Linked DNA regions of Homo sapiens: all the other regions are linked to region 1. The links come from fine-mapping of genetic effects on gene expression. A gene starts in region 1. Each other region holds a variant in brackets. All regions are shown on one strand. Distances are from middle to middle.

The links.
Region 2: its variant is fine-mapped to the expression of BDKRB2 in fibroblasts (GTEx, PIP above 0.99).
Region 3: its variant is fine-mapped to the expression of BDKRB2 in breast (GTEx, PIP above 0.99).
Region 4: its variant is fine-mapped to the expression of BDKRB2 in cerebellar hemisphere (GTEx, PIP above 0.99). The same link has a PIP of 0.9 or more in cerebellum.
Region 5: its variant is fine-mapped to the expression of BDKRB2 in prefrontal cortex (ROSMAP, PIP 0.95).

Annotation. Positions count from the first base shown.
Region 1 is chr14:96,202,879-96,207,980 of GRCh38, forward strand. BDKRB2 (bradykinin receptor B2) reads left to right here and starts at 1,961. Exons shown (of 3, transcript NM_001379692.1): 1 at 1,961-2,081. RefSeq lists an enhancer at 1,422-2,297.
Region 2 is chr14:96,174,551-96,179,652 of GRCh38, forward strand. No RefSeq gene overlaps it. Among named protein-coding and RNA genes, the nearest start is that of BDKRB2, 28 kb to the right of the region's middle. RefSeq lists an enhancer at 1,136-1,636. The variant A/G (reference allele first, on the strand shown) is at 2,664.
Region 3 is chr14:96,228,540-96,233,641 of GRCh38, forward strand. All of the region lies in intron 1 of BDKRB2 (bradykinin receptor B2), which reads left to right. Among named protein-coding and RNA genes, the nearest start is that of BDKRB1, 25 kb to the right of the region's middle. RefSeq lists a silencer at 2,793-2,988. The variant C/G (reference allele first, on the strand shown) is at 2,535.
Region 4 is chr14:96,261,565-96,266,661 of GRCh38, forward strand. It overlaps BDKRB1 (bradykinin receptor B1), which reads left to right. Exons shown (of 3, transcript NM_000710.4): 2 at 1,088-1,206; 3 at 2,109-3,199. The coding sequence starts at 2,119. The coding sequence ends at 3,180. The region is part of intron 1 of BDKRB1-AS1 (BDKRB1 antisense RNA 1); the gene reads right to left. Among named protein-coding and RNA genes, the nearest start is that of BDKRB1-AS1, 4.5 kb to the right of the region's middle. The variant A/G (reference allele first, on the strand shown) is at 2,241.
Region 5 is chr14:96,242,849-96,247,950 of GRCh38, forward strand. It overlaps BDKRB2 (bradykinin receptor B2), which reads left to right. Exons shown (of 3, transcript NM_001379692.1): 3 at 1-1,316. Among named protein-coding and RNA genes, the nearest start is that of BDKRB1, 11 kb to the right of the region's middle. The variant A/G (reference allele first, on the strand shown) is at 3,066.

The DNA.
Region 1 (5,102 bases):
TAGACGGATGGACAGACAGACAGGCGAATAAGTAAATGAATGGTTGGATAGGTGGATAGGCAGGTGGGCGGATGTGTGGGTAGATACCAGTGTAGATGAATGGAAGAGTGTGTAATTGTTTTATAAGATTAAAATATTCTTTTGATGGCAGGACACAACACAGTGACACTCAGATAAATGAAAGGTAGAACTTTTGTTTCTTACAGCTCCAAATGAGAGGCTGTCAGGCTGGGCCACACAGGATGTGCAACTGGGGACAGGGTCCAAGCAAGCTGGAGCTATAGGCGGCAGCTATGTGTGGCACGTAGGGTGGTGTTAACGAGGTTTCCTTGGCTCCCTATGGATTGGCTAACTTAAATAAGTTTGTGAGTTCCAGATGATGGGAGCTGTCCATTATTGTTTGGTACCTGGCTCCAAGGCCATCAGGGCAGGTGGCTAGTGGCCCAGAGTGTGAGAACCTGGTAAGAGAAAGGGCCAGAATGTGAACTTAATCAGCTGCTCATGAACTGGCTGGCCTCCAGCCAGGACCTCAAAACTGGTTTAAAGTAGCCTTTTTAAAAAACTATATGACAGAGATGGATGGAGATGTGTGCAGATGGACAGATGTCTTTTAGAGATTTCTGTCAATGATATTTACAGAAGCATCAACATTGGATTCAGATCCTTGAGGATTTTCAACTCATAGATACAGAGCTCTACAATATCTAAGTTGGAAGAGACTTCAGAGGGTCTCTGGACGCTCATGCAGGTCTCAATATGTTGTGGATCTCAGAGCTCTTCAATATTTTAGTGAAAGCTATAGATGAGGCTCCATAGGGGATAAAGCACAGACACACCTTTTCAGAGGGCTTGTGGACTCTGGGCAGCCTGTCCATAGACCTCTGTCCCCAACTGGCAAGTCAGGAAACTCCAGATTAAGGAGCCCCAATGTGGTTGAACAGCCAGGTGCACAGATGAGTCAACCACACAGCCAGGCCAGGGAGGGCCTTCACTCAAGAGCCTACAGCCAGTTCACAGCCAAGCCAGGGCTAGCGCCCAGGCCACCCATAAACTGATCTGAGACTCTGTTTCCCTGTCTCCATGATGATGGGATCAGGCTTGATTGCTGGTTTGTAGGCTTGTTATGAATCAAGTCACAGGGAAGAGGAGCTGATGGGCTGGGGGGACGTCCTCTGGCCCTCCTGTCTCTTCCCCAGATCCACTGGGCCCACTCTTATCTGTTCTCTTCTGAAGGAAGGGTTTTAAGGCTTCAAAAAAAAATGTTTTGAAAGTCCCTGCCCTTTCCAGCTCCTACCGTCTCAGCCCTGGGAGTGTAAAGTGCTGCAGATAGTTAGTAAGTCTTTGAGCAAAACTGAGAAAGCCAGCCTGAGCCTTGACATGGGAGAAACCTCCGCCATACATCTCCGAAGAAACGGCCGCGTGTCTCAGGGGAGCGCAAACACCCGTACCCAGGAAACAGGACAGCTTCTGCCACTGTCGCCCTTGGGAGCCGTACGTGGCATACAAAGAAATCCCAGGACTCCGCCTGCCCACCTGGCCACCCTCTGTTTACACCTTCCGCGTAAACGCCCACTGTTTACATCCAAAACTCAGACACAAAATAACCACCTCAAGAAGATAAATAATGATAAGAAATAAATGTTACGCGAGGCAAATTTATTCACATGGGGCTTCCCAGGCCACTTTGTGGTCAGCCGGGAGGGACGTTTTTGCCGTCCCACGACTCCAACGGGCAGCCGGGCTACGCAAACATGGAAATCTTCCAAGAGCCTCCCTGGCCCCCAGGGCTCAGAGGGTGGCAGAGCGGAGAGCGAAGGTGGCCGCAGCCTTCCCGGCCCCACAGCCAGCCTGGCTCCAGCTGGGCAGGAGTGCAGAGCTCAGCTGGAGGCGGAGGGGGAAGTGCCCAGGAGGCTGATGACATCACTACCCAGCCCTTGAAAGATGAGCTGTTCCCGCCGCCACTCCAGCTCTGGCTTCTGGGCTCCGAGGAGGGGTGGGGACGGTGGGGACGGTGGGGACATCAGGCTGCCCCGCAGTACCAGGGAGCGACTGAAGTGCCCATGCCGCTTGCTCCGGAGAAGGTGGGTGCCGGGCAGGGGCTGCTCCAGCCGCCTCACCTCTGCTGGGAGGACAAACTGTCCCAGCACAGAGGGAGGGAGGGAGGGCAGGCAGCGGGGAGAAGTTTCCCTGTGGTCGTGGGGAGTTGGGAAAAGTTCCCTTCCTTCCGGAGGGGAGGTCTGACAGGCGATGGGGAGAAGGGTTCCCAGCAGGAGGAATCGCCCTGTTTGTCTGTTGTAGGTTTCTCTTCTCTGAATCAAGGTGACAGACAGGCTTGTGTGTGTCCAGTGTGTGAGGGATTTCGTGATTGGATTTTCACATACTTTGAGTGGACACCTTGGAGTAAGGCAGCGAGGTGTGTGTGGTGCAGCAGGGACGGGTGCTGGGTGGAGGCTCCAGAACCTGGCTTTTCACCCACAGCTGTGCCACTCCTTGGCCCTGTGTGACCCTGGACAAGCTATTCAACCTCTCTGAGCCTCAGTTTCTCTGTCTGCAAAGCAGCCAGCTCGCTGGCTCCCTGGGGGTGGCAGGGTTAAATCAGAAGCAGGCGGGGGTGGGGGGGTTTGTGAATGTTGGCTGATGCGCCTCCAGGAGGCAGGTGGTAGTGACTACCTCAGATGGGCTTAGAGACCCTCTTCCCACGGTCCTGGCTGACCAGGGCAGGGGGATAGGATGGTGCAGGGGTTCCAAGCACCGGCTTTGCATCCGGCCCAGGTTGCAGCTCCAGCCCTGCTCTCACCCTGTGGGTGACGTTTTTGGGCGAGTTATTTTGTCCTGTCTCCTGAGCTATAAAGAAGACCTGGAAGTTCCTCTTTATGCAAAGATAGAGGTAGGCTCTTGCCTGTGAAGCACCACGTATGTCATAGGCACTAAATAAATGGCAGCCGTGATTCGAGTTGCTGAGAGTAGGTCGTTTCCGCAGCCTGGGTGGAGGTGAACAGCAGGTGTTGCTGTTCCAGGCAGGTCAGAATGTGCCTCACTGAGTCACAGGCCGCCTGTGGCTCCCCAGCCTACAGGAAGTGGGAGCCCTGGCCTGGGTGTGGGGTGATGGGGGCCTCCCTGGCCAACCCCGCCCCTAATTCCATTTCTGAGTTGGAGAAGGGCTTAGGTGGTGGGGGAACAGGTAAGCAACCCCAGAGGACATTGCAAAGAGGCCCTGCCCGAGGTTCTCTGGAGAAAAAACTGTGCTGCGTCCTTCGGGCCCTGGCAGCAGCAAGAGACATTCCACAGTTGTGAGCCCCACAAGCTTGGAGGAAGCATTTGCTGTTTCCCCTGCTTGGGGTGAGAGCAGGGGACAGCCAAGAGAAGGCGTCTTTGGATGAAAAAGAGGAAGCATGCGTGCTGTCCCCACAGGCAGCACCCCAGGCCTCATCCCAGCTCTCCCTGCAACCCTGCACTCCAAGCCTCTCACTGCACTGATGAGGAAACTGAGTCTCAGAGGGGGAACATGACCTCAGCCAGCCCTTCGCTCAGTGTCCAGGGAAATGCCTCAATCTCTTTGGGATTCCCTCCCTTGCAAACGGGGAGGTTCCCATGGTTGGGCCTGCATGATGGATCTGAGGACTTTGAAAGTGGTATTTGCCTGCCGGTGGGACCCAACCTGGAAATATTAGGTTGGTGCAAAAGTCATCTCGGTTCTTGCCATTAGAAGTAATGCCAAAAACCGCAATGACTTTTGCACCAACCGAATAGCTGTGCCACGTGGTTTTTGCTAACACAGTGACTGGCTCAGTAACAAGTTTGGTGGCTCCAGAGGTAACATTAGGGCGGCCTCCTCACCTGTGCTGCTTGTGGTCAGGGAGGGGCCCACCTGGGCGCGGTGGGGGGAGCCCTGCAGATTTGCCCAGTGTCATAGCCTGTTTGAGCTGCTATAAGAAATACTTTAGACTGGGTAATTTATCAAAAAACAGACATTTATTGCTCTCGGTGCTGGAGGCTGGGAAGCCCGAGATCAAGGCACTGGCAGATTGGGTGTCTGGTGAGGACCTAGTCGTCATAGATGGCACCTTCTATGCATCCTCATATGGTGGAAGGGTGAACACGCTCTCCCAGGCCTCCTTTAAAGACCACCAATCCCATTCACAAGGAGGGGGACCTCATGATCTAATCTCCCCCCAGAAGTCTCACCTTTTAATATCACCAGCTTGGAGATTAAGTCTCAACAGGTGAATTTTGGAGGGACACAGGCATTTGGATCATAGCACCGGGGGACTCTGGTTTTCAGAATGAAAGTAGGGGCCTTGTCTATCCGCTCAAGCTGCCTCCTCTGCACTGAAAACGATGCCTAGCCCAACATGGATGGATCAGTGTTTGCTGAAATGCTGAATGGTTAAATGAATAAATAAATATTGCTCATATAGCAGGCAATAAAAAAGCATACAGAACCTATCACTAAGTGAATGAAGCTACTCTGAAAAGGCATATGCTGTATGATTTCAACTATATGTGACATTCTGGAAAAAGGCAAAACTATGAAGACAGTAAAAAATAAAAAAAATCAGTGGTTGCCAGGAATTAGGGGAGGGAGGAGAGAATGGGAGGAGCCCAGAGACTTTTAGGGCAGTGAAACTTCTGTATGACACTGTAATGGTAGAGGCATGTCATTGTGCGTTTGTGCAAACCCACAGAATGTCCATCACCAAGAGTGAACCCTGATGAAAACTATGGACTTTGGGTGATGATGATGTGTCAACGCAGGTTCATCAATTACAACAAATTGACTGCTCTTGTGGGGGATGTCAGTAACGGGGGAGGCTACGTATGTGTAGGCACAGGGGATATATGGTAAGTCTCCGTACTTTCTGCTCAATTTTGCTGTGAATCTAAAACTGCTCTTTAAAAAAAAAAAGGCACACAGAGCAGATCTGCATGTTGTTTTGAGGATTCAGAAGGCACTTAGGACAATTACGGTACCTCAGGGTCATGAGTCAAACAATCAGACCTGCCAAGACTTGACACCCCAAATGCATCACTTCTGACATCCATTGGGTCCAGGAATCCCCTGCCTCATGAATATCCATCTTAGTGTGCATGCCTCCAAGAAT
Region 2 (5,102 bases), 28 kb before region 1:
CTGTGGCCACATAAGGCATCAGTTACCAGTAGAACCATCTCATGGGGTATGATGGAGACAAGAACCCAGGTAGAGAGGCTCTAGGAGAGGGTGAGAACGTGAGCCAGCAGCCAACGTGACTCTTCGAGGTGCTGTGAAGGAGGCAGAAAAGGAGGTGGTGAACAGAAGAAGATGGACAATCCAGGGGTGTTCAAAAGGGGCTGTGCGGGCTACTTAGGGACGTCTGGCAGGAAGGTGTCATTGATGACAGGGGAAAGAGATGGAAATAAGTAGAGAAACAAAGTCCTGGAGAGGGGGAGAGGGAAAGGGATCCTGAGCCATGTGCTTAGAAGCAGAGACCCATCTTCCACGTGGAGCATGTGGAGACCAAACATGCTGGCAGGCTGGGACCTGCTGAGCACTTCTCATCTGAGTACATAGACTCTCTCTATCAAACATGACAGGAGGCCACTGGCCAAGAGAGAGAGAAGAAAGCACCGTGGAAGATGTAGAGGAAGGAGTGGTGAACTAGGAAAGTGAAAGAGTACATTTCTAGGGAAGTGTGATGGATTTAGAGAAAGTGTTCATTGCCCTCTAGAGATCTGTGCTCCTAAATTTAAAGTGAGAGCAACTAGCAGCATTGTACGATGTTTCCCAGCCATAATCAGCTTCCAGGTGAGGGCTGAGGAAGAGCAGAGTTGGGGCAGAGATGTTTTGGAAGGTCATGAGGTGGAAAAATAGGAGACGATAGCAAGAGGGATTCTTGGAATCAAGACTGAATGGGGGTTGGGCGCAGTGGCTCACGCCTGCAATCCCAACACTTTGGGAGGCCAAGGCAAGTGGATCACCTGAAGTCAGGAGTTCAAGACCAGCCTGGCCAACATGGTAAAACCCTGTCTCTACTAAAAAAAATACAAAAATTAGCCAGATATGGTTATACATGCCTGTAATCCCAGCTGCTCTGGAGGCTGAGGCAGGAGAATGGATTGAACCCGGCAGGCAGAGGGTGCAGTGAGCCAAAATCGTGCCACTGCACTCCAGCCTGGGCAACAGAGCGAGACTCGATGGGTGGCTGGGCTGGGTGGCAGAGATGATCACTGGCTGTCCCTTGAGATCAGGCAACTGGAAATGCTTGGGATTAGACAGCGAAGTGGCTGCTGCTGGTGCCCTGTCCAAGCCCTTTCCAGACCCCAGGAGGCTGTGCTCTGTGCACTCTGCAGACCTTGGCCAATGCCAGCCTCATGGCTGCCACAAAGTTTGCCCCGGAGATAGAGGCACTAACTCATTGGTGCGCCAGAGCCCCCCATGGGATGAGGCAGAAGCTGGGCTCCAACCAGACCACCTGCTTAGCTTTTTCCACCTGCTGTATCCTGCTTCCTTTGCCCCCCTTTTCATGGGAGTACTCCCCAGTAAATCATCTGAGCAAGAATCCAACCTCAGGCTCCGCTTTAAGATCTATGAATTTTCATGTGCCAAGAACCATGATGGGGGTGGTGGTGGAGAAAGAGCCAGTGAATCCAGTACTAACAATATCGGTGAGCAAGGAGGGTGATGGGGCAGTCAGGAAATGACAGCTGGCAGGAGTCGGGGTCATGAAGAAGGACCATGCCTGTCAAAGGGGCTTTGAAAAGGAAGGAGACAGGTAGGGGACTGGCTGGAGGGCAAGGAAGGTATTGGCCCTACTACTTCCAGATCCTGCAATTATGGAGTGTGATAGAAAGAATTAGCCACGTAAGAAGATTTGGGGGAAAGCAGGACTTTCAACAGACAGCCAAGTTTGGGATGGTATAAGAGGGTGAAATGATCAGAACTCATGATAAACCAAGAGTTTTGGATGGCTCACAGGAAGGGGTGGATAAGCAAGGAAGGATGGGTGATGGGGTCAGATTAGGAAATATTCAGAGCATCTGTAGGAAGTGGAAAGTCTCAGATGATTCAGGAGGCTAAGGTTCTGCCAGAAGCTGAGGGGAAGGGACATTTAATTCTTGGTGGATTTGGTCCTGGGGCTGAGCGCTCATACTGACAAGTGCCCCAGGGCAACAGACTCAGCAGAAGGATGTCCGCCATCATGGATGGGAAGAGCAACTTTCTCAGGCCATTTATCCAGGTTCCTGAAAAACTAATTTAACTGGTTTGCATACACAAAACCAAGGGTTTAGTTGGGGTCTCCCTGCCTCTTGGGGATTTGGAGGAATTTCACCCAAACTCCCAACGTGTGGGCACTGAGCCTCCCAAGGATTCCTCCCCACCCCACCCTCCAACCCTCAAAATGATTTTTCTGGCTGTTTGACAGCTTGAATCTCCAGCGCTGCACTCCTGTATCCCGGAGGGACTGACTGTTTCCTGGCCTCAGCTCTCTGAACGTGAAGCTCAGGCTTTGCTTCAGCTGCCAAATTTTGTGAGTTGAGCAATTTAAGGCACAGAGGAGCAGGAGGAAGAGGGGCAGTGTGCGTGCATTGCTCTCTGCCAAGCTGGGGCTCACCGTTCCTCTCTTTTTCTCACCCCACTGACCTCAGCGTGAGTGCATGTGCACACACACACACACACACACACACACATGCTCACACACATCAGAGTAGTCAGCATCTCCCGTGGTCTGAAGGAGGATGTTTCTGCCCACACGCAGGCCCTGGGGGCTCAGCTTCCATTCCAAGTGCCTGTCCAGGAATTTATTTCCAAGACAT[A/G]CAATGCTCTTATTGAAAGAAATTTGGAAAGCAGTTTTGTCCCTCTGCGAAAACAATGTGGTGTCGTGGTCAGGGGTACAAACTCCGGGATCACGCCACAGCAAGGAGCTGAACCTTCCTGAGCCTTGATTTCCTAATCTAGACAATGGGGGTGATAATACCACAGTTGACATTTTCCAGCACTTTTCTTGGGCTTGGCACTAGGCCAAGCACTTTATAACCATCATCTTAGTTAATTCCAACATTAGCCTTACGAACTGGGAATTACTCTCACTGATCAAAGGATAAAAATGAAGTTCAATGAGTTTAAATAACTTGCCCACCATCTCCTGGTTTTTAGTTGGCTGAGCTAGGATTCCATGGCGGGTCTTTTTCACTTTGAAGCCTTTGCTCTTAAACTCTCTGCACCATACAGAGTCAGGAGCCCTCGGAGCACCTGCTGGCTCTGCCACTAACTTGACCCCCCTCCCCTTGGGCCTCAGTTGCCCAATCTGTAAAATGTAAAAAAGGTCCCTTCCAGCTCTATCTCAATTGAATTTTTGAAAATGGCAGTCTTGGCCTTGAAAGAGTTAACACAGATGCATGTGAGTCAAAAGTCCCTTCTTACTCTGCTTTGTCCCAAGTTTCCTAAGATAGCTTTGAAGACCAAAAGTGCATAACGGCTTAAGCTTGAAGGCAGAGTTTAGGAGGAGGTGAGCGTGCAAATAGCCACTGCAGTTCTTCTGGAAGGCCAGTACATTATCCCTAAATATTGCTTAACTTTTTATAGTGTCCTATTTTATCAGTGATGAGGCTTCCACCATGAAATCACAATATTAGAAACCGACTCAGAGAGCACTTGGGTTTAACAGAGAAACAGGCAGGGGAGGGGGGTTTCCTGAGGCCGCTCACATGCCAGGCTTCATCACAAGTTCAGTACACGGAGGGGAAGCTCAGGTCCTGAGAGGGTGGGGCGTACCCTGCTCCACCCACACACAAATCGCGGCAGAGCCAGGACCCTGAGCAGATCTTTGAGCCCAGGGCGTTCCTTCCGAGAGCTCCTCTGCCAGTGCCTGTCCTTTCTCATCTGTGTTTTTCCAGAATTTCTTAAACAACACTGGGGGATGAGGGGGGCTGCCCAGTGACCAGGGCTCTGGGCCCTACCTGGCTTCAACCTGAGCAACTTTGTTTTTATCAATCTAAGATTTTGTTGGAAAAAGGCTTTGGTTGCTTACAAAATTTTTTAAAGTTTATGTTCCAGCCTGGGTAACATGGCCAGACCTCATCTCTACAAATAATTTAAAAAAAAAAAATTAGCCAGGCATGTTGGCTCTTGCCTGTAGTCCCAGATACTAAGGAGACTGAGGAAAGAGGTCGAGATTGCAGTGAGGTATGATCGCTCCACTGCACTCCAGCCTGGGTGACAGAGCCAGACCCTGTTCCCCTGACAAAAGCAGTTTGGAAATGCAGCTACACTTTCCACATTCATTTTTTTTCTTGCTCCTAAATTGATTTCAGCAAAAAATGGAAGCTCCCTGACACCAGGAATGCAGAGAAGGGAGACATACAAAGCAGCTCTGCATTTGGGGCAAGGAATTCAATTGCGCTGTAGCAGTGTGAGTGTGTTTGTGTGTGATATGTGTGTGCATGGGTGCACGTGTGCATGCCCCACACCCACTCACAGCGAGTCAGGGTGACAGGTTTTGCACAGACATCCTGATCCTTGCTAAGAGGTAACCACAGCTGGCACCCATGGCCTTGTTTATGCTCCCAGATGCTGAGCAACACAAATGATAAATCCAAGCAAGTTGTTTGCCTGCAGAGTTCCCGGCCTGCTCCAAAGTTGCAGCTGGGGGAAACCCACAGGGCTCTAGACCCACCCGTGCAGGTAGAGCCCTTCCATGTGCTTGAAGATGGCACAGCGGGAAAGTCCCAGCAGCCAGGCCATCTGGTGGCTAAGAAATGAAGTTCCAGACAGAGCCCTGGGTTGGACACAGTCTGGTCTCAGATCAGACCTTGGTCTCTAGACCCCTGGCATGTCCTGGGCTTCAGCGGCCTTCCCCAGATGTCTTCCGGAGCCCTCAACTTCATGTTCACCCAGCTACAACCATCCCTCACCTCAGTGAGCTTCTGACTCTGTTCCAGCGCACACCTAGGCCAACAGGAAGCCACCCAGACCCCACGGCATGATGTGCGAAGCCCTTCATAGCCTGGGCCCACCAGGAAGGCACTCCATCAATTCACTCCTGACTTTATTCCTGAATTCAGGGATACACAAATGCATGATCCAGGATCTGTCTCCCCTCTGCGCCATCCAGAGCCTTGCCAGCACTTGGCAGAAAGGAGGTGGGATCAGAGCTGATGGAGAATAGAATAAATAAAAGAACCAATGAAATATGCAAGAGTCCACTGAACACTATAAAGAACTGAAATCATAAACGAAAGAAATTATTACTATTA
Region 3 (5,102 bases), 26 kb after region 1:
TCTTCCACATTCAGACACTTCTTCTCTTCTCTCCTTCTCTGCCATGCTGCTCTGCTCCTCTGCCAGTGGAGTTTGGGGTTTTTATGGGTATAGGATGGGGGGCATGGTGGGCCAGGGTGGTTTTGGCAAAAGCAACACTCAGGTGGGAAAACAGGAATGTGAAGTTCTCATTTAGGGCCGTGGGCCCAGGCTTGTGGGTGGGGCTTTTGCCAGAGAGCTGTCCTCCTCTACCCAGTATTTCCCTGCCTCCTGTCCATATCACCTGCACCAAGAACCTCACTGGGTGGGAGCCAATCCAGAGCCAGAGAAAGGACTTGACACTTGGCCTCAGGCAGACCCAGGCTTGAATCCTGGCCCTGCCTCTGATGAGCAGGGTGACCTGAACTGTCTCAGGTTGCCTCGCTGACTCTGCTTTCCCATCTGGAACATGGGAATAGCAATGCATCAGCCACTCAGTGCAGTGTTGAGGCTGGAACAGGTGGGGCACACTGTGAGCTCCATTTCCTTTTGCCTCCACCCAGCAATTATGTCTGCTGGGGAGAAGAGGAGAAATAAGGATCACACCCTGCCCTCTATCAGTCAGTCAACGACCATTTATTAAACACCTACTAGGTGTCAGGCACTTGACAGAGAAATGAAATAACAACACAAGCAACTCTTATAGCTATACCCTATAATAAATGTTATAGAAGCAGGAGGCAGGTAGAGGTGGAAGAGAACCTTCTGCTTGCAGGGGGATATCAGTCAGAGAAACAGAACCAATAGGAGACACAGATTAAGAGATGTATTGCAAGGAACTGGCTTATGTGATTGTAGGGATGACTAGGCAAGTCAGAAGTCGCTTGGGAATGCCAGAACACTCAGCCTTGGACCGAAGCTCCTGCCCGCAAGCTGAATTTCTTCTTCTTCCAGGAAACCTCAGATCTGCTCTAAGTCCTTTCAACTGATTGACTCAGGCCCATGCAGGGAGTTGAGGACAAGCTTCCTTAGTGAAAGCCAGCTGGCTGTGGGCTGTCACCACACAGACAAACTGCTTCACCCCAACACCAAGATTAGCTTGAAATGGAATAACTGGGGCCTGTCATCCAGCCAGGTGGACCCACAGACTCACCGCAGCAGAGCACCTAGAGGCGGCCACGGAGGGTTAGTGACAGAGCAGAATCAGGCAGGGCACCCGGGCAGGGGGCAGACCCAGCAAAGGCTCCTAGGGCAGATTGTAGAAGAGGTCCTTGGAGATCAGGGAGTACAGCAACGTGGCTGTGGCACTATTAAATTAAATTAAATTAAATTGAAAATAAAATTAAATTAAAAAGGATTGGTGGCTCACGCCTGTAATCCCAGCACTTTGGGAGGCCGAGGCAGGTGGATCATGAGGTCAGGAGATCAAGACCATCCTGGCTAACACGGTGAAACCCTGTCTCTTCTAAAAATACAAAAAAAAAAAATTAGCCAGGTGTGGTGGCGGGCGCCTGTAGTACCAACTACTCGGGAGGCTGAGGCAGGAGAATGGCGTGAACCCGGGAGGCAGAGCTTGCAGTGAGCCGAGATCATGCCACTGCACTCCAGCCTGGGCTACAGAGCGAGACTCCGTCTCAACAAAAAAAAAAAATTAAAAAGGATTGGAATAAAGGAATGGTTTAGTAAACAAAAATAAACAAATGCAATGCCTTTTTTGAAGGCGTCATTACTACAGCCATGATGGAGCAACACGGATAAATTCCCATGACAGGAGGTTTCATGTAAAACCACGGTGACAGAACATAGTTGGATGTGGCATACATAAACAGCTGTGCCCAGGGATGGAACTCTGGGAGATTTTCCCATTAGTTTTAAATGCTCTTTCATGTAGTTATTCTTTTATTTTTATGTTTTTGAGACGGAGTCTCGCTCTGTCGCCCAGGCTGGAGTGCAACGGTGCGATCTCGGCTCACTGCAACCTCTGCCTCCTGGGTTCAAGTGATTCTCCCGCCTCAGCCCCCCAAGTAGCTGGGATTATAGGCGCCCGCCACCACACCCAGCTAATTTTTATATTTTTAGTAGAGACGGGGCTTAATATTAGTTTTAAATGCTCTTTGCTGTAGTTTTTTTTTTTTTTTGAGATGGAGTCTCGCTCCGTCACCTAGGTTGGAGTGCAACGGTGGGATCTCAGCTCACTGCAACCTCTGCCTCCCGGTTCAAGCGATTCTCCTGCCTCAGCCCCCCAAGTAGCTGGGATTATAGGCACCCACCATCATGCCCAGCTAATTTTTGTATTTTTGTAGAAGTGAGGTTTCACCATGTTGGCCAGGCTTGTCTTGAACTTCTGACCTCAGGTGATCCACCTGCCTTGGCCTCCCAAAGTGCTGGGATTACAGGCGTGAGCCACAGCACCCAGCCTAGTTATTTATTTATTTATTTTTTTTTTAAAGAGAGAGATGTTATTTTTTTTAAGGGGAATGAGTGGTATTAGGATGTCAAATGAAATTGCTTATTTAATAAAACTGAAAAGCCCAGTTTGGGGAAAGAAACAAAACACACTGAGCAGAATAATCTAA[C/G]CACAGTGAACAGGAAAAAAAGCCAAGAATAAAATAAGTTCCGGGGTATCCAAGGGTGAGCAAAGCCAGGCCGGCAGGCCTCCTCCTCCCTTGCAGAAAGCAGGATGGATGAGGGGCTCTGCTTCTCCAGGCTCCCTCATGTCCCCACTGAAAGTGTTTCCAGAACATTCCAGGCCCATAAAGTGTCCAAATGCTGGAAGGACTTACATGTATATGTCTGGGATTGAATCAAATCTTCTGACTCAATTCTCTTTGGGAGTTCTGAGAATGGAGGTCACTTCCCAGAACCCCGTCTTCCCCCTACAGACAGCTTTGGCCTTCTTTTCAGGGAAGAAAAGAAAAGGGACTCTTGGAAACCCTGCTGAGGGCCACGCAGCTCTGGTTGTTGAGGCTCATATGGTTTATGAGGCGCCATCACCCCCTTCCGCCACCCCCTGCCTGCTGTGGCCTGAGGCTTACCTTCGTGACTGCCCTAAAAACAGCATCCAGACTCAGTAACCACGTCAATCAGCTTTTAGAGGAAAACATTTATTCTGGGGAGGTGTCAGGGAAAGGATTCAGGAGATCTTGGTTCTTTCTAGCTCTGGCCTTGACATCGACTTGCTGGGTGGTCTGAAGGATTTCACTTATTTACAGAGCGAATATTGTTCAAGAGTTTGGGATGTGCAAAACTCAGCTGCAGGCGTGATGCAGGGTGGGAAGATGAGCAAGGCAGGGTCCTCCTCTCCAAGTACAGCGAATATGGTGGGACAGATGCACATGCACTTTATGCACGCATGCACGCACACCATGTGCTCAGCTGCCACTGAGAGGAGATAGGAGATGCAGAGGGAGAGGGAGAACAGCCGCCCTCTGACTAAGGATGGAGCCCAGCTGTCTCAAGAGCTCTCCTGGATGGACAGACTGGTGGCGTCCCAGCAAAATCCCCCATCTCTCCATCCGGCTGTGTAATGAATGACTGGAAACCTCAGCTGGCCTGTGAGCAGGAGATCTGGCCAGGTGGAAGGGAATCCCTGACACCCCACAGCCCCTGGTGTAGCTAAAGCAGACGGGCCTCCTGGGCTGGTGCAGGAAGAACAGCTTATGTTCTCGAACACATTGACCACGTGCTCCATGCATCTGACACACACGGACTCGTCTACTCCACACAGCACCCTAGGAGATGGGGCTGTTTAAAATACCAATCCCCACTGTATAGTTGAAAAAAACGAGGTGCAATGAGGTTAAATAACGAGCTCTAGAGAGGAGGACTCAATTCACAGTCAGCTTCCAGAGCCCATCGGCCTAACCGCCAGGCTGGCTTCCCGTCCGTAATGCACGTTTCCAGCTAGAGGCTTTCAGGCTGTGTTTCCCACACTTAGCCATTGACATTCACGTTCACAGTTTTTGCCACATCCATGTCACCTGTACAACCATTTCTTTAGTAGTGACTTACTTTTGAACTGCAACTTCATGTCACCAATTTAAATGGAAAATGAGTATCACTTATCATAAAAAAGATGATAACTGTACAAAATAAAAGCAATAGAATGTGAACAATGCTATTAGAGCCTGGGTAGATTCGGGGACCAGCCAAGGCTCTGAACCTGCTCAGTCTGTTGAAAAAGGAGATTACGCACATAGAAAGGCGTTGAAGTGCACGGACACCACGCTGAGACGTTCTTGTTGGCCTAATCAGGAGGAACGACTAGATTATTCAATTCAAGGTTGTTTACCAGGCCAAACTACTTCCCTTGCTGGGAAATGCTTCCCAGCTCTAACGTGCAGTCAGAAAATACGGGACACAAGTTGACATCCGAAGGAAAAATATCTTTTCCTTCTCCACTTCCGAGTTCTTGGTTGGGGGCCCTGAAACAAAAAACAGATGAACAAGAGAAAAGTGAACAAATTAATTTAATGTAAGTTTAATGTGACATGGGAACCTTCATAAGGAAATGAAGTGATTAAGCCTGAGTGCCTTTTTGTTTTTTTGAGACAGAGTCTCGCTCTATAGCCCAGGCTGGAGTGCAGTGGTGCGATACGGCTCACTGCAGCCTCGATCACCCCGGGCTCAGCTGATCCTCCCACCTCAGCCTCCCAGGTAGTTAGGACCAGGACTACAGGTGTGTGCCACCACGCTCACCTAATTTTTTGGTACTTTTTGTAGACACAGTCTCGGCTGTGTTGGCCAGGCTGGTCTCCCACTCCTGGGCTCAAGCGATCCGCCTGCCTCAGCCTCCCAAAGTGCTGGGGTCACAGGCATGAACCACTGTGACCGGCCTGAGTGTTTCCATTAGATGTCATGAACAGTGGAGAATCATGGGGCTGTGGTGGGACCAGGGGGCACGAGCGAAGTACAGAGAACTGGAGAAACAGCAAGGCCTGTCGGGGCTCCTCTCAGTGTCCCCAGTGCTCGGAGTGGACGGTGCCCCTTTCCTCTGGCTGTGGAGTCTGGTGTCCTGCTTCAGGGAACAATCACATAGTCCTTCTGCGCCTGCTGTTTCTTGGATTCTTTCCACTTAAAATATTCAACATGCGAAGCTGCCACATTTTGGGGTAGCGTGCCCTGAATCATTGGCTACAAGGTCG
Region 4 (5,097 bases), 59 kb after region 1:
CAAGGTTAATTCTCTGCTACACAATAGCTTTTGTTGGTATCTGTGAGGCTTTGCGGGGTTGAAGGAATCTCAGGTGTCACCCATTAATAACAATCATGACAGTGACAACTAATGTTTGCCACGTGCTTACAATAAGTCAGGAACCCTGCCAAGCACCGGGCGTATATTAACCTATCCAAGCTGGGGAAGAATGTTTAGGCTCTGAAGATTGTCTGGAGCCGCATAAATCCCGCAGTGTAGGCAGCTGCTCATTCTGCAGATAGTATTCTGTGGATCCCTGAGTTGGCTGTGGCCGGTTTTGCCAGCAGGAGGCCACGAAGCCATGAGCACAGGATGGGATCTACCCCTTGTGGGATCGCAGAGGGCTGGGAGATGCAGTCCTCCCTATGGAAAGAGACAGAGCTTTCTATCCCTCTCCCGGTGAAACTCAGCATGGGAGCATGGGAGGCAGGTCAGCTGCGTGGCTATGAACATGAGCTATGGGGTGCATGCAGACCAAGGTTCATAGTGTACACTGTACCCACCAGCTGTAGCTCCTCCAGCAAGCGTGGGAGGCCAGTCAGCTGCATGGCTGTGAGCACGGCCTCTGGGGTCCATGCAGACCAAGGTTCCTGGCGTAGCACTGTAACCACCACCTAGGTCTTCTCCGACAAGCTGGTTAACTTCTCTGAGCCTGGCTTTGTCATTCATCGCGTGGGGACAGGTGCAGCAGAAGAGAGCAGACAGAAGCACAGGATCTCAATCAGGCTCTTGAATCAGACTGCCTGGGTTTGAATCCAGGCCCTACTGACCAGCTGTGTGACCTCAGACAGGCGACTCCGGGTCTCAGCACTCAATTTTCTAATTGGCCAACTGGAGATGACAATGGCCCCTACCTTGAATGGCTGCCAGGAAGATTAAATGAGAAAATACTTAAATGTGAAACACTTAGAATGGCGCCTGGAACACAGACCATTAATACCATCTAACAGATGTTAGTTGTTATCCTTATTTATTACTCATGCTTTCCTTTCTCTTTTTTCTTTTCTCTCTCTCTCTCTCCTTTTTTTTTTTTTTTTTTTTGTTGTTGTTGTTGTTGTTGAGACAGGGTCTCAGTCCGTCGGCCCAGACTGAAGTGCAGTGGCACAATCATAGCTCGCTGCAGCCTCGACCTTCCAGGCTTAAACGATTCTCCCACCTCAGCCTCTCGAGTTGCTGGGACCACAGGTATGCACCACCATGCCCAGCTAATTTTTGTATTTTTTGTAAAGACAGGATTTCACCATGTTGCCCAGGCTGGTCTTGAACTCCTGGGTTCATCTGATCCATCTGCCTTGGCCTCCCAAAGTACTGAGATTACAGGTGTGAACCACCACACCCGGCCAATACTCATGTTTTTCAAGCCTGTAAGAGGAACCTCCTAGCACTGTCCCCACCCCGGCCACCACACTGGTCCCAGCCCCAACAGGTCAGCTTCCTTTGCTGTTCCCGGGCTTCCCTCAGCTCTATCTCAAGCCATGACCTCTGCCTCCATGTCTGCAGCCCCATGAGGCTGGGGCTGCTCTGTCCTGCATATCTCCAGTGCCTGGCAAGGGGCTGGCAAGAGGTAGAGGCTCATTAAATGCCTGTTAAAACCCTAATAGTAATAATAATAATGGTACAGTTGTTACTAAGACTAATCACTACCTTCCAAAGTCTTTCCTCTATGCAAGGCACGGAGCTAAGCACCCTGTAGATCCTGACAACAGCCCTCCCGTGATCCCACAAGAGAGACACGATTCTCTCCAATGTTTAAAAAGGAAAGTAAAAGTCAATGGTTCTAAGTAGCTCACACTGAGTGATTGTACCGGGATTTGGACTCAGGCACCATCCCTTAAACCAGAGGTCAGCAAACTTTTCCCCCTCAGGAACAGATGGTAAATATCTTCAGCTTTGCAAGCCAGACAGTCTCTGTTACAAGCGCTCGACTCCCCCTTGTAGCATGAACACAGCTGTAGATAATACGTCCAGGAATGGGTGTGGCTCTGTGCCAATAAAACTTTATTGTCCAAAAACAGGTGACAGGTTGGTTTGGCTCATAGGCTGTAGTCTGCCACTTCCTGTTTTATTCTACCTTCTGTTCATTTCAGGTCACTGTGCATGGCATCATCCTGGCCCCCTCTAGAGCTCCAATCCTCCAACCAGAGCCAGCTCTTCCCTCAAAATGCTACGGCCTGTGACAATGCTCCAGAAGCCTGGGACCTGCTGCACAGAGTGCTGCC[A/G]ACATTTATCATCTCCATCTGTTTCTTCGGCCTCCTAGGGAACCTTTTTGTCCTGTTGGTCTTCCTCCTGCCCCGGCGGCAACTGAACGTGGCAGAAATCTACCTGGCCAACCTGGCAGCCTCTGATCTGGTGTTTGTCTTGGGCTTGCCCTTCTGGGCAGAGAATATCTGGAACCAGTTTAACTGGCCTTTCGGAGCCCTCCTCTGCCGTGTCATCAACGGGGTCATCAAGGCCAATTTGTTCATCAGCATCTTCCTGGTGGTGGCCATCAGCCAGGACCGCTACCGCGTGCTGGTGCACCCTATGGCCAGCCGGAGGCAGCAGCGGCGGAGGCAGGCCCGGGTCACCTGCGTGCTCATCTGGGTTGTGGGGGGCCTCTTGAGCATCCCCACATTCCTGCTGCGATCCATCCAAGCCGTCCCAGATCTGAACATCACCGCCTGCATCCTGCTCCTCCCCCATGAGGCCTGGCACTTTGCAAGGATTGTGGAGTTAAATATTCTGGGTTTCCTCCTACCACTGGCTGCGATCGTCTTCTTCAACTACCACATCCTGGCCTCCCTGCGAACGCGGGAGGAGGTCAGCAGGACAAGGTGCGGGGGCCGCAAGGATAGCAAGACCACAGCGCTGATCCTCACGCTCGTGGTTGCCTTCCTGGTCTGCTGGGCCCCTTACCACTTCTTTGCCTTCCTGGAATTCTTATTCCAGGTGCAAGCAGTCCGAGGCTGCTTTTGGGAGGACTTCATTGACCTGGGCCTGCAATTGGCCAACTTCTTTGCCTTCACTAACAGCTCCCTGAATCCAGTAATTTATGTCTTTGTGGGCCGGCTCTTCAGGACCAAGGTCTGGGAACTTTATAAACAATGCACCCCTAAAAGTCTTGCTCCAATATCTTCATCCCATAGGAAAGAAATCTTCCAACTTTTCTGGCGGAATTAAAACAGCATTGAACCAAGAAGCTTGGCTTTCTTATCAATTCTTTGTGACATAATAAATGCTATTGTGATAGGCTAAATGATTACTCCCGTAGATTGGGGGGTACCTAATCCCTGGACTTGATGAATGTTACCAAATTAAGGGTCTTGAGATGGGGAGATGATCCTGAATTATCCAAGTGGGCCCTATATAATCACAAGGGTCCTTATAGGAGGGAGGCAGGAGGCTCAGAGTCAGGAGATGTGACTATGGAAGCAGAGGCCAGAGGAATTCAGGACGGCCACTACGAGCCAAGGATTGCAGGCACCCTCTAGAGGCTGTAAAGGGCAAGGAAATGGCTTCTCCCCTGGAGCCTCCAGAAGGAATGGGTCCTGCCAACTCCCTGTCTTCAGCCCAGGGAAACAGATTTAGGATTTCTGGCCTCCAGAACTGTTAGAGGATACATTTGTGTTTTGTTTTGCTTTGTTTGCTTTGCTTTGCTTTGCTTTTTTGAGATGGGGTCTCGCTCTGTCACCCAGGCTGGAGTGCACTGGCACAATCACGGCTCACTGCAGCCTCAACTTCCCAGACTCAAGGGATCCTCCCACCTCAGCCTCCTGTAGCTGAGACTACAGGTGTGCACCACCATGCCTGGCTAACTTTTCTATTTTTTGTAGAGATGGTGTCTTCCTGCATTGCCTAGGCTGGTCTCAAACTCAAGGGCTCAAGTGATCCTCCACTTTGGTCTCCCATAGTGCTAGGATTATAGGCGTGGCCACTGCGCCTGGCCCCATTTGTATTTTAAGCCACCGAGTTTCTGGTAATTTGTCATAGCAGCAGCAGGAAACAAATAACAAGTATCGGGTAATGGCCTCTCTTATTACACTTCCATTTGTCTATTCAAAGCTTTCTAGGCTAACTGCCAGGAATACAGGGATGGTATAGCTAGAAGTTCTATATTCAAGGAACTTACATACATCTAAATATTATAATATAAAAAATGAAATGAGAAATTGCATGAACACACCACGGATCCAGCATCTTGCGCCTTCAGCGAGAAAGGGGATGGGTTCCCTCTCAGGTTAGCAGAGAAGACGCTGTGAAGGGAGTCAGCCGTGAGCCTGGTTTCCACAAAGGGTGCAATCTGGATACGTGGAGACAGGGAGGAAGGGCTGGCAGAGGCGGGAAAGGGTGAGCTGCTCACAAAAGAATGCTTGTGCATGCTCTTATTGAACGTGTAATGCATTGGTGCGGGTCTTGCTATGAGAGACCCAACGGTGAGCCTAACGGTGTCTCTACCCTCCAGGGGCTCACAGCAACCAGGACAATAATTAAGGGATTGTCATAGAGCAGGATGCCCGCCACCATCAGGGTGAGGGGTGCCGTGAGAACCAGAGCAGGGCTCCAGTCTGGGTGGCTGGGAGGGATGGTTAGAGAGGGGTTCCTGGAGGAAGAGACACATAAACTGAATCCCAAAAAATGAGAAGCTGGCCAAGCAAAATGGGGGAAAGGAGTGTTCCAGACAGAAGGAACAAAGTAGGCCCAGAGGCAGGTGGGGTTACAGGTTAGGAGGGAGAGGTTGAAGGATGGCAGAGGAGGAGGCGGGTCATGGAGAGAATTGGGGCTGGAGGAGAATGGACAGGCTGGGTCCACCATGGTCAGCTGGCAAAGACAGTTCACCCAGGAAGGATGGTGGGCTCCAGGCAGCTTTGAGGGCCCCATTGAAGCTGGAAAGCGTGGCTGTGTTGTGTGAATTTACTCTGATAATGCTCGACAGACCCAGGAAAGGATTGCTCTGGAGTAGGGTTTAGCCAGATAGACGGCCATACGTCATGGGAGTTGGGGATCCTGGTCAGACTCGGGGGAATGATGGAGAGGGAAGAAACGAGCACAGGGAGAGAAGGAAGTGAAGTGAGATCAGTGTGTTAAAGGATGGATATA
Region 5 (5,102 bases), 40 kb after region 1:
GAAGGTGGCCCAGTATGAGCCCTAGAAGAGTGTGAAAAGGAATGGCAATGGTGTTCACCATCGGCAGTGCCAGGGCAGCACTCATTCACTTGATAAATGAATATTTATTAGCTGGTTGGAGAGCTAGAACCTGGAGAGCTAGAACCTGGAGAACTAGAACCTGGAGGGCTAGAACTGGAGAGGCTAGAACCAAGAAGGGCTAGAACCTGGAGGGGCTAGAACCTAGAGAAGCTAAAACCTGAGCTAGAAGCTGGAGGACTAGAACCTGGAGGGCTGGAATCTGGAGAGCTAGAACCTGGAGGGCTAGAACCTGGAGGGCTAGAATCTGGAGAGCTAGAACCTGGAGGGCTAGAATCTGGAGAGCTAGAACCTGGAGGGCTAGAACCTGGAGAGCTAGAACCTAGAAGGGCTAGAACCTGGAGGGCTGGAATCTGGAGAGCTAGAACCTGGAGGGCTAGAACCTGGAGGGCTAGAACCTAGAAGGGCTAGAACCTGGAGGGCTGGAATCTGGAGAGCTAGAACCTGGAGGGCTAGAACCTGGAGGGCTAGAACCTAGAAGGGCTAGAACCTGGAGGGCTAGAACCTGGCAGGTTAGAACCTAGAAGGGCTAGAACCTGGAGAGCCAGAACCTGGAGGGCTAGAACCTGGAAGGGCTAGAACCTGTAGAGCTAGAACATGGAGAGCTAGAACCCGGCAGGCTAGAACCTGGCAAGCTAGAACCTGGAGGGAATGAACCTGGAGGGCTAGAACCTGGAGAATGAGAAAAATTTACATGGCAAAGAGCCCATAAATCCTGACCAATCCAACTCTGAATTTTAAAGCAAAAGCGTCAAAAAAAAGATTCCCTCCTTACCCCCAACCCACTCTTTTTTCCCACCACCCACTCTCCTCTGCCTCAGTAAGTATCTGGAGGAAGAAAACAGGTGAAAGAAGAAGTAAAAACCATTTAGTATTAGTATTAGAATGAAGTCAAACTGTGCCACACATGGTGAATGAAAAAAAAAAAAAGAGGCTGTGTTTTGTCACACAGGGCAGTCATTCAGCACCAGAGCACGTGATGGTCTGAGACTCTCTTAGGAGCAGAGCTCTGCCGCAATGGCCATGTGGGGATCCACACCTGGTCTGAGGGGCAACTGAGTCTGCGGGAGAAGAGCGGCCCTATGCATGGTGTAGATGCCCTGATAAAGAACATCTGTCCTGTGAAAGACTCAATGAGCTGTTATGTTGTAAACAGGAAGCATTTCACATCCAAACGAGAAAATCATGTAAACATGTGTCTTTTCTGTAGAGCATAATAAATGGATGAGGTTTTTGCATAGCTCTAGCATTTGTTACAACTCCCGAAACCCCCGAGTTTGGTCCCTGGGGTACCGCCTTGCACACTCAGAAGCCTTTGGGAAGGGGTGCTATTCATTTCTGCTCAATCTGTTAACAGGCTTCTGGCATGTAGATCAGTGGTCTCCAAGCTTTTGTGATTGTATATTCCTATAGGAAAAAAAGAATTGATTATGCATACCCAGTATGTATACTTATTAATCTGTATGAAGATGTACATTCTAAAATATAATCAACCAGTAGAAATTTAAGAAAGAAGATGTAAAAAAAAAAAATATTAACAGTGCTTGAATATTTCCTTCCATCTTACATTTCTGCAGGGATAACTCATTACCAAGTTCCCACTACATGAATGTGAGACCCTCATGAGGCCTAGAATCATAGGCGCAGCAGCGATTCAATCATTTATTCATGCAATATAGACTTACTGAGTGCCTACCACTTGACTTCCCTTCAAATCAGGAGTATCTTCTACAATATCCTGATGAAAAGCCACTTGTTTCATACTCCCAGTGATGGGGAATTCATTATCCATGCCACTTTGGGATCCCTTCATTATTCATGTATTCATTCCTTCACTCATTTATTAAACAAAACTTGCCTAGTCTGTCTCCATAAATGCCCCTCCTCCATCCATGCATCCATCCATCCATGCCAGGAACCTGGGGCTCATCGCTCAACGTACCCTCTCCTTCATCTGTTCCATCTGGTGGGTCAGCACCTCTTTTATTTTTTTCTAACTTTTATTTTGAGTTCAGGGGTACACGTGCAGGTTTGTTACATAGATAAACTTGGGTCATGGTGGTTTGTTGTACAGATTATTTCATCACCCAAGCATTAAGCCTACTACCCATTAGTTATTTTTCCTGCTCCTCTCCCTCCTCCCAACCCCCACCCTCCACTAGACCTCAGTGTCTGTTGTTCCCTTCTTTGTGTCCATGTGTTCTCACCATTTAGCTCCCACTTACAAATGAGAACATGTGGTATTTGGTTTTCTGTTCTTGGGTTAGTTCGCTAAGAATAATGGCCTCCAGCTCCATCCATGTCCCCGCAGAGGACATGATCTCATTCTTTTTTATGGCTGCATAGTGTTCCATGGTTGTATATGTACCGCATTTTCTTTATCCAGTCTATAATTGATGGGCACTTACATTGACTCCATGCCTTTGCCATTGTGAATAGTGCTGCAGTGAGCACTCATGTGCATGTGTATTTATGATAGAATGATTTATATTCCTTTGGGTATATACCCAGTAATAGGATCAGCACCTCTTTTAGATTCTACTCACTAAGTGTTTCCTAAATCTATGTTTCCTTCTATGTCCAACCATCGTCTGTCATGGGTGCCTCCAATACTAACTACTACCATCTCCCAATTCTTATTCTTCACTCTGCAGCCAACATGGTCTTTTAAGAATGCAAATACATTCATGGGGAGGCTATAAACATAGAGAACTGTGTTCAGGAGCCAAGACTTTAGGATTAGGTAGACCTGGATTCCACTTGTGGTTCAGCCTTGGGCTCTTATTTGCTGTGTAGTCTTGGGTACCTCAGTTATCCTTTCTGAGTCAACATTTCCTTGTCTGCAAAATGGGGATAATAATGGTATCTACCTCATAAAATTGTTAATAGGATTAATGTATGAAAGCATCTAGCACAGTGCCTGGTACATAGTTGGCACTGAACATGTACTAGCTTTGATGATGATGATGATGATGATGATGATGATG[A/G]TGGTGGTGGTGTTGGCAGTGAGTGTGATGGGGGCATCCTCCAAGGGAAACCCTTCCATAGTGTCCCACCCCTCTTGCGATAAGGTTCTACAGCTGTAACATGGCTTGCAAGACCCTTCATGATCTGGTCCCTGTCTTGTCTCTATGTCTCCCTCTCTCTGCTCCAGGCTCATTCTCTACCCTCCAGCCATTTGGACACAAGAACCTAGACAGATCCCAGAAGATATTTCATTCTGCCTCCAGTGCCCACTCTTCCCACCCAGACTGCACCCCCTCACTAAGTGCCCTGAACTTGGAGGAAGTTGTCCACAAGTGCCCAAGGGAGCTCACTCCTCCAGGGAATTTTGTTCACAGATGCCTGCATTACTCAAGGGAGTCTGCAATCCAGGGGAAACCACATGCCTGGAAACCTGAGCAGGGCTCTTAGCAGGCAAAAAAAGAAAAAAAAAATGCTGGGAGAGCCTCCCCAGCGAGGCAACAGGAGCAGCCCCTCAACTCCTGACCCTCTCTGGCTCCAGCAAGCTGGCGCAATGAGAAGAAGTCCAGGTGGGCTCAGGAGACCAGGCAAGGGGCCTAGCTCCTGAGTCTTCCCTGGCCACAGAGGGGTGAGAATAGGATGCAGAGATGCAAACTGGACACCAGATGACCTCATGGGAATTCATGCTAGTGCTGGAGCCTCTTGAGCACAGCCTTCATGACTCAGAGGGGGAGTGTCTCCATTGTGTAGATCCCAGCCATGTGCTGCATTATCTCCTTGTTACCCAATTCCTGACCCTTATGTAGCTCTGATCCTTCACCAAGGATGAGGGTGGGGAGCAGGGATGAGCAACAGAGGTCATGATTTGGCAACAGCAATGGCTGAAAGTTTAATCGTTTGTTCATGAGAGTTTTATTCTGGTTTTAGTTTTTTATTTTGTTTTGCTGGCTGAGGCAAAATAGTCCCAGGTCAAAGGGACCCCATCAAAATACTTCACGCTCACAACCACTCTGGGAGTTTGCATGATCACTGGTTCATGGTATGGAAACTGGGGCCCAGAGAGGGAAGTAACTTTCCAAGGCCATGCAGTTCTTAAGGAGGGTGCTCTGGAAATTCTCTCTGTTCTTGGGGTGTTCATGCCTTAACAAACCGAGGATACAAATTCTGTCACAGGAAAAGTCCTCGAAGTGCCTTCTTGCATGACGAGCTTATGACCCAGGGCTTGGGCTATTTCTGCCACAATAAAAGCTTTGCATCTCATAGGCCTTGTGCATACTTGCTTCCTGCAGATCACCTTCCCAGAGCTGGTGGATGTAATTCACATGCCGTAGAGTTTACCCACTTCAGCTTTTACTTAATAACCAATTCATGCAACCATCACTACTGTCTAATTCCAGAACACTTTCATCATCCCCCAAGAAATCGCATATTCATTAACAGTCACGTCCCATTCTCCCTTCCTCATGGCTTTGGGCAACCACTAATCTTTCTGTCTCTAGATTTACCTGTTGTGAAAGAAGCCAGGCACATGTTGTAGGATGCTGTCTCTGTAGAGCCTATAACACATGCCTTTTGTGTCTAGCTCCTTTTACCTCCTAACACTGAGCTAGAATGTTTAATTGTTGGGGGAGAATTTTGGGGACCAGTCCATGGGTTCCCTACCATGCCACTTGTGTGATCTCAGCAAGCCACTTTACTCATCTTCCCTCCCACCACCTTTGGCCTTAGTTTTCTCGTCTGTCAAGTGGAGAGATAATAAGTCATGACTCTAACAGGTTTCTGGCATGTAGATCAGTGGTCTCGAAGGACTGCCTTATGTGATGTTGATGCTGTCCTCTATAGTTTACGAAGGCCCCAGCACCAACAGTACAGGGGCTTGGAGGCAGGTTCCTGGTTCACATCTTACCTCTGCCACTTCCCAGCTGTGGGAATTTGAAGAAGGTCAGTGAATTTCTCTGAGTGTCTCTTTTCTCATCTATTAAATGAAGATCCAAGTATTGTGAAGATTCAGTGAGATAAAGATGTTGTGATGAGTTGAAGAGTATCCCTCCACCCCAACT